2 linked regions of the Homo sapiens genome follow. The protein of the gene in region 1 purifies or fractionates together with the protein of each later gene. This does not show direct contact. Each region holds a gene or a part of one and is shown on either strand. Other genes may lie near its edges.

Region 1 (4,596 bases):
TTTTCCAAACTAACATCGTTTTTTGTTATTAAAAGAAAAATCTCGTTCTCTCTCTTTCTGCTGTGATGTGTGTGCATGTCTGGCTTGCACAGAAATGAGGACCTGAAGAGAGATGGGTGATGTACGATGCGGAATAAAATCCACTTTGTAAACATGTTCTTCATTCCATAATGGCATCCCCTTTGGTATTTACAGAAGATTTCTCCTTGTGTGTTTTACACAAGCATAAATATGACTAATGTGAATTTCCGCTCATTCGCCTTTTCTAGGTGGAATTGTGTAGCCCAGTAAACACAATAATAAAGAAGGCTTCCTAAAGACAAAGTGAGGATTTCTCAGTGTGCTTTTTATTAAAGGATGGAGAAAATCTTGCATTTGGCTACAGGCTGACATTTTCAAAAGCCTGCCCTAAGACAATGAAAAATATGTATCATACACATATTTTAAAAAATTTTTAAAAATTATAAATGTCATACATGCTACTTAAGAAAACACGGAACATTAAAAAATGAAAAATCTGATCATAGTTTCACTTTCAATTTATTGGTATATCCTTCTGCGCCAAGGTTTTTTGTTGTTGCTTAAACGTTTGCCGCCACTTATTCCCTCCCCACATTTTAAAAGGAAGATAATTTATGTAGAATTATGTAGAAAGTGAGGTATCAATTAGTAGGTTGGATTTATAAAGAACAGAAGAGGAGCCACACTGGCCTTTGGGGTAAAGCCAACCATATTAACTGTCCAGCCCTGTTGTCAGGTAGAGGAAGTATTCGTTTGAGGGAGATGTGAGCCTCCCTCATTGTGAAGATAGTTTTTGATCAATTATTCAATATATACAGGTTTGGAGTTCAGTATGTCTTCTAGAACTACTGGCGGCAGCTTCTTTCGTTGACGTGGGCTACAATGGTTGCTAAAACCTGCGTGCCAGAAGCCAGAGGTGGGGAGGCGCCATTTGCTAAACCGGAACTGGTTAAAATCTCAGGGTGGAGACCATTCCCAGTCAGCAAGGGCTTGGGAAGTGCATACAGTTCCTGCTCCTGGTGTCTACTCTGAAGAGCACAGAGTAGACGTTTGTCTGCCATTTCACCGGCAGTAAGATCAGCAGCTGCTGGTGAGCAAAGAGGTAGTAGTGGGTCACTGGACTGGTGGGCGCCGGGGCCGCGCGCTAGATGGAGAGGTCAGCGGCGAACCCAGCTCCATGGCCTAGTCTCGTCAGACCGAGCGCGGACCCTGCCGGCCTCCGTTCTCTTCCGCTTGTCTCAGGTAAAGCGCAGATCCCTCCGCCGCAGCGTGCGCTCCCGGTAGCGCTGCGATCAGCTTTTCGGCAATACCCGGATGGAAGTGTAATGGCCGCCATCAGGGACTCGCAGGCAATGGGTACTACGACAGGTATTCCCCGTCAGCGGGACTGCCCAGACCTTTTAGGATGTCAGAACTTCTAGAGGGCCACCCAGCAGGCAAACGGCGAGTTTGTGGACCGTCAGGGTCCCCCAAACAGGTCCAGGGATCCGCCTCTTGTGAGAGGAAGCGCGAGTTAAATAGTCCCGGCCATTCAGCGCTTCCGCTTAACTTGCCGCAAAGTTTTTCTGGAGAAGTCGGGGTTTTTTTGCCGAGCGCTTTTGCCGACTGCTAGAGCTTACCCTTACTTTCTTAACCTGGGGTTGTTTTACTTCCGGGCTTTTTGAACTCTACACTCTCCTACATTCTAGGAGCTGGGTGGGAGTAGGAGACGGTGTGCCTCCGCGCTCCCCGCGGGGCAGCCGAACCCCGGAGGAAGGGGCGGATCGGGCGCGGTGTTTGGGGCGAAGCTGGGCGCGCGGCGCTCGAAGCACTCACTCGGCGGGTTTCGTGGTTGGTGGAGACAGCAAGGGCGCCCCGCAGACCGCACCCCTCGAGCTATAGGTTCGCAGGCCCGACTCGACGGCGTCCCTATTGCTGGCCCAGCGTATGGTCATTGGGGGCCATTTCTTGCAGAGATGCCCTGCTCCCTGACGCGCTCGCTCTTCTCCAGAGTTGGCCAAAGGTGCTCTTCCCCGCAGACCCTAACCACACCCAGTGGCAGTTGGATTTCTTTGTAACTGGCTTTCTCACATGTAGGGTTCATTTTGACTCTATTCGTTACATGGTGTCCTCTTTGTCAAGTAGACAGTCTCTTCCTAGGTGGCTGTGGTAATTGAAAAGTACATAGAGCGAAATGTATATAAGGAAAAATGTTTTAACTCTTAAGTGGACCGATCAAACAGATGTAGCTTTAAAGTTCAGAATACAACAGTTAAGACTCAGTTTTCTTTTTAGGTTTAAATTTGAGAGCAAGTAGTGTATGTGAGCTGTTTTAGTGCAAACATTGTTGAGTATGTTGTCAAACGTCTAAAAAACCCTAGAAAAATAAAATAAGTCAATGTTCAAGGAATTCATAAGAATGTTGGAATTTGTACAGTTGTCGCAGTGATAAAACATGAAGACACCAAACTGTCAGGATAGGAATTCTATTAACTTGAAAGTGTGCATGTTAGATCTAGTTACTGGTAATTGTTGAATTGCTTTTTCTGCAGCAAGGGGTCTGATTTGAGTGTACTCTAAGGTTGATATCCTCAGGTTTAATTTAAAACATTTAAATTGATTCAGTGAAATTTCCTAACATTTTTTGAGTTTAACTGCAAATTTATAGAAATGCATTCACTATCTTTCAGCAAAATTGTCTTTTCTGAAATTTATAAAGAGACATTGCGTTCTGTTAACACTTTGAGGGTGTTGGGATTTCCTGGGGAAGGTAAGCATAGTAAACGATGTTGATTTTTGCCATAGAAACTGTAAATTAGATCATCCCTAGATACAGAAAATTGCCAACAAAAGGGGAGAATAAAATGTAGGTATGTTACACAACCAAATGTTTCCTGTTTGTTGCGTGAAAATAAGTATAATTACCAAATAAAACGTTTTATATCTGGTTTTATGGAAGGACAAAAGACAGTAACCACAATGAACACCCACTGTGTGCATTGATAATGTATGAACTTTTAAATGCTTCAATTTTTTGCCATGGTCACACTTCGGATTCTGTTCTAGTCTCTCTGGTAATAGTATGCTGTAATCCCAGAAGTTTCTATATTTTGAAATATTACAGAGGGACTATACTTTAGCCTAGATCTATAATTTGACTTCAGGATATGCTTTAAATGCCCTTTAAGTGTATTTTTGTTGTTTACTTTTCTGTTTATAGTTGTTTAGAATTGTTCTCATTGAGGCATTGTGACATTGCATACTTTAGAGCACTTAATACTACTTTTTTTTTTTTTCTTTAAATGATAGGAGACTTGAATCTTGCCCACATTCCTTCAGGTATGCTACTGAAGGTTTTGTGGCAAAGTGCTATTAGCAGAACAAAAAGGTTTTAACACCGTCTTGAAATTTTTATTTATTATCTGGTCCCAGGTGTGTAGGCTGTGAGTATTTCAGTTCTATATGGGGTATTGGCTTCTCATGGTGAGCAGTTTTCATGGCATATTAGATACCAGAAATGAGTATTAAGGGTTAGTATTGTGGTGGTAGGATAACTGAATTGGAACCGGATCCAGATATTATTTCTAGTTTTGTGACTTTGGGCAAGGCTCATTTTCTTTTTCTTGTAATAAATGAAGATACTGAGTTAGATTGATTCTAAGCTTTAGGTTGTGACTTTTGCAAATTTGTGACATGTTATCACTGGTCATCAATGATGTATGCTTAAGTGTATAGAAGTTTTTTCTTAGTTTTTTTTTTTTTTTTTTACATTTCTTTATACACCTAAGTTGAATGTGAAGTGTAATTGAACAGTTTTTGTCGTCAAAAGTTTTAAAATCTTGGTCTTCATTTCCAGATATCATCTCTTCTTTTGATCACTGTTCCTGATTGTGACATTGTGCAAGTGTTAAATTGTGTGCCTTTTGTTCCTGAAGAAAGAGGTATGGTAAAGATTGAAATACTGGAGTATATAGTCTATTAAGTAGTAAGTTGGTATGTTTTAATATTGGACTAAATAAAGTAAAATATAGGTTAAGTATCCCAAATCCAAAAATCCAGAATGCAAAATTTTTTGAGTGCTGACATGATGGTCAAAGGAAATGCTCTTTGGAACATTTTGGATTTTGAATTTTTGGATTTGAGATGCTCAACTGGTATAATGCAAATACTCTAAAATCCTAAAAAAGAAAAAGAAAAAAAGAATGAAACCCTTCTGTTCCCAAGCATTTCAAATAAGAGACACTCAACCTGTAGTTTTACATATACATGAGTTTTCATAAGTTATATAAGTTATAGTTTTATTTTATTTTTTGGCTAAAATAAAATACTTAAACATGAGTTTTCATTTTAATCTAAGCAAAAAAAGTAATTTTTGGTTTCATAGTTTATTACTTAACATTTTATTAGAAATCCAAATATAACTTTAACTATCATCCTTCTGAATAGAAAAGTGGCATTAAAGTCTTCTGGGTAATGAACAGTGGAGATAAAGGTGGTAGATAGATGTTTCAAAGCTATATGAATGGCCAGAAGATTGTGGTTTTGGTCTAGTAAGTGCAAAGCAATGTACCTAAAGAAAAATTATCTGATATGTGT
Region 2 (3,817 bases), on another chromosome or scaffold:
CATTGATGTGAAATAATCAGGCTTTTATTTAGCTTCAGATGGCACTAGCCAAGACGTCCTTGACCACTGGACACTAAACCCTTAACTCCCCACTGGGACCCTTTGACTCAGACCCCAAGCTTGCAGTTACCTCAAATTTTGTGTTGTTTTGGGGGGATAAATTATTGCAGAGGAAAAACATAAGGTTTTTTCTCAAATGAAGACTCAAACTGAAATCCATTAAATCCCAACATGAGCTAAATCTAAGGGTGGAAAGAGGAATCAAAATCTAAAAGCCTCTTGGACTTTATTGAGGCTTATTGAAGACCTTATTGAGATAACATCATCATACCAAGTTTAACCAGAATCTCAGGCAAATTAGAAAGGTGTAACCTTTAGACTAGGTGCCTGAGCTGTGCCTAGACTAATGAAATCTTCTGAATTATTAGACCATGGCCTGCACATTAGACCATGGGGCTTCATGTGGGTATATAAGGTCATGATTGGCTGTGCAGATAAGTTGTCATGGGAGGGTTGGATGTCTGGCCAAGAAGCAGAAGGAATGGATTGTGACTTCTTGACAGGGATACCTTGAACTGTTATACAGGTTGTTCACTGCACAAAAGTGCCTGGGCAAGGAGGCAAATGGGAGGCTCACATCTGCTAAACAAACAAAACCACATGCATCCTGGAGTAGGATTGCCTCTGCTAGGAGAAAAGGGAACTTCTTTCTGATGCTATCAAGCCTGCAAAAGTCTAGGTGTACATGGAAGGAATGCCTTTTTTTAACACACACAAAGGCACAATATGGCTACCAGCAGCTCTGCTTCTCAAAGCCCCTGTAGCCACAGTAGTCCTCTAGATGCCATCAGCTGGCAGAGTCTGTCACTTAACCATTTGGTTTATCATGTCAGGCTTTATTGGGAAACATATAAACTTCATGAATGTCAGTGGAATGAAGGAATAAAACCATGTTTTCTGTGGTATGTCAGCAAGGTACATGTAAAAAAGTAATACTGATTATATATGCTAGGAAACAAACATTCAGTGGTACACATTGCCTATGATGAGTTTCTTTCTCTTCAATTCATTATTTCTGAGGGGTAGGTAAAGACCAGCACTTTGGGTGCTGTTGACATTGTTTATTGCTACTTAAACACCAGCATGCTCAGTATTGCCTAATACTTGCCAGGGTCACCAGCACCCGTTGTGTAGTTGGCCTGGTGCAGGGAATGGAGTAGTAGTAACTCCTGGGAACGTGGAGAGGGATTCATGTTATTTATTGACCAGCCGTAGGCCTTTTTCCTTGGGGACAGGATGCAAGTAACAGTGGTTGCAGGAGCCTTTGGAACTTACCTATGAGTAGCTGCTGCTTCTGGAAAAAGGCTTCTAGTTTAGGTTAAAAGGTGCGGAGTCTTGTTATCAAAGGTACCACAAACTCAGAGAGTTTGTCTGTGTTCCCCTTAGTACCAACTGGTACTACTTTCTTGCTTTTTTAAGTTGATCCTTTAGAAAGCCTGTAGCCAGAATCAACTTCCTTCTCCTGGCTCCTCTTCTGGGAGGCATTTGCACAGCCTGTAGGATCAGCCATGTTTAGTGAATCTAACTGCTAAGGCAGTGGTCCTGAGGATCAAGGTGCTGGTTCATACTTCGGACCTAGGCCATCTGCTGTTTTCTGGAGACAATACACCTTGTGAAAAAAACTAAAAGATGCAGAAACGTGAATGCCTTTCACATTTAACCTGGTTAAATGCAGCTATCTTCAGACATACTCAGATTCCCAAAGCAGAAAGAGCAGAAGATGACAATTCCTAAGAATTTCTTACAGAATTTCTTTAAATAGCAAATTCACCTGTTGTGTTTATAGTATGATTTGATTACACAAAATTCCAGGAGTCTCAAGTTTTCAAGGAATATCTCTGTCAAATTCAGCAGAATATTCCAGCACATGCCTTGCCCTCTTTTTTAACATAAATATTTGATGAGCAGCATGCTTTATCCAAGAGCAAATCAATGCTCCTGGCAGGCTGCCTAGAAGGTAATCCTAGTGTTCCTATCTTTGCCTCCCATTCACCTACAGTTCTCTGACTTCCTATGGCTGTAATAAATATCCGGGGGCTCAGAGCCACCCACATCCAGCAGGTAATATAACACAGGGCAGAAATTACCCTCTCCACACTCACTGTGCTTACCTCCTGAATTCTGGACTGAGATTTCTCTGACTGACTTTCACATGAGAACCTACCTGCCTAAACCCAGGTTTCTTCGACTCCTCCTCCTGAGCTGTTGAACTCCACCTTAGCTTTATCTCTTCCATGCCAATCTTGTCCTGTTCTTCACACTTCTGGGAAAATTGCTTATACAACTTCAATATTTTTGAAAATATATAATATATGATCCTCAAGAAACATTATAACCATATACAAAGGTAAACATTTTTGACAATTTCTTACAAGAATTCCCTACAAGATTTCTTTTCTTTTCTTGCTTCCTTTTTTTTTTTTTTTTTTTGAGACAGGATCTCAGTCTGTCATCCTGGCTGGAGTGCAGTGGCACAATCATGGCTCACTGCAGCATCGACTTCCCTGGCTCAGGTGATCCTCCCACCTCAGCCTCCTGAATAGCTTGGACTATAGGTGCCTGCCACCACACCTGGCAAACTTTTGTGTTTTTTGTAGAAATGGGGTTTTACCATGTTGCCCAGGCTGGTCTCGAACTCCTAGACTCAAGCAATCTGCCAGCCTCAGCCTCCCAAAGTGCTAGGATTACAGGCCTGATCCACCGTGCCCAGCCCCAGGATTTCTTTAAATAGCAAATTCACAAAAATCAAAAGTTTTCAAATTCAAAAACCTTGCTCCCATCTTATCCCCATCCATGCCTTTCCCATATTCTCTGCAAGTAGCAACTTGTAAACACAAGCAAATAAGAATATATGGTATTTTAATTCTCCCCCCTTCTCTCATTAAAGGTGGTGTATATACTCTTCTTTACCTTACCTTTTAAAATTAGTGGTATGTTTTAGACATCTGTCTCTGCAAGTATCTCTTTCTCACACACACACAGAATAACAAGTTTTCCATCATGTGGATGTACCATGGTTTATTTGACCAATCTCTACTGCTGGACCTTTGGGCTGTTTCCCAGTCTTTTGCTATTACAAACAGTGCTGTGATGAATAAAGATGTAATAAATCATTTTGCTTTGTGAAGGTGTACTTAAGGATTGATTCCCAGAAGTGGGACTGCTGAATCACAGTGCTCTGTAGTACCCCTCCGGAAAGATTGAACCATTTTGCCCTCCCATCAGGAATGTATTGGATGTCCCGGTTCCGTACAGCCAATGGCCATAAAAGTGTCAGCTCTTCTTATTTTTGCTAAGCTGGTTTCTGCACAACGGTAATTTAGAGCCATTGAAATATTTTTGATTATGAGTGAGATGGCGGTTTGGGGCGGTTCTTACATCTTTTCTAGAATGTTGATCCTCCTGTGGGCATTTGTTGACCTTTCCTCTTGCATACATCTCTGTCAGAATCTCCTAAATACAGACTTACAAATGTGATGGCTCTTTTGGGCCTAAGGGTAGAGTGGGCTGCCAAATTGTCAGTGCAAAATCAAGAGAAGTGGAAAGTAGGGTTTTATGCCAGTTGCTAATGTCTGAATTAAAAATAGTTTTCAGCTAATGGTATTACTAAACTGGGGCTTCTCCAAAAAACATGATGAAGATGATCTTCTAGCCTAGAATTTCTCCCTCTCAAACAAAAACAAAAGAGAGAGATTGAGAATATATACATTTCAATAGCATTTCCTGCAAAACTTAAAAACTTCCTTTTAAGAAGCCT

Evidence for each region.
Region 2: the proteins of ZNF518A (region 1) and GNG12 purify together in Homo sapiens (affinity purification with mass spectrometry; one large-scale study listed by BioGRID and IntAct). This does not show direct contact.

What each region holds. Positions count from the first base shown.
Region 1 is NC_000010.11:96,128,730-96,133,325, forward strand, and holds the start of ZNF518A (zinc finger protein 518A), read left to right. Parts: upstream 1-1,567; 5' UTR 1,568-2,023; exon of another isoform or gene 2,024-3,856; 5' UTR 3,857-3,941; exon of another isoform or gene 3,942-4,596.
Region 2 is NC_000001.11:67,823,183-67,826,999, reverse strand, and holds part of GNG12 (guanine nucleotide-binding protein G(I)/G(S)/G(O) subunit gamma-12), read left to right. Parts: intron 1-3,817. UniProt on the Homo sapiens protein: Guanine nucleotide-binding proteins (G proteins) are involved as a modulator or transducer in various transmembrane signaling systems.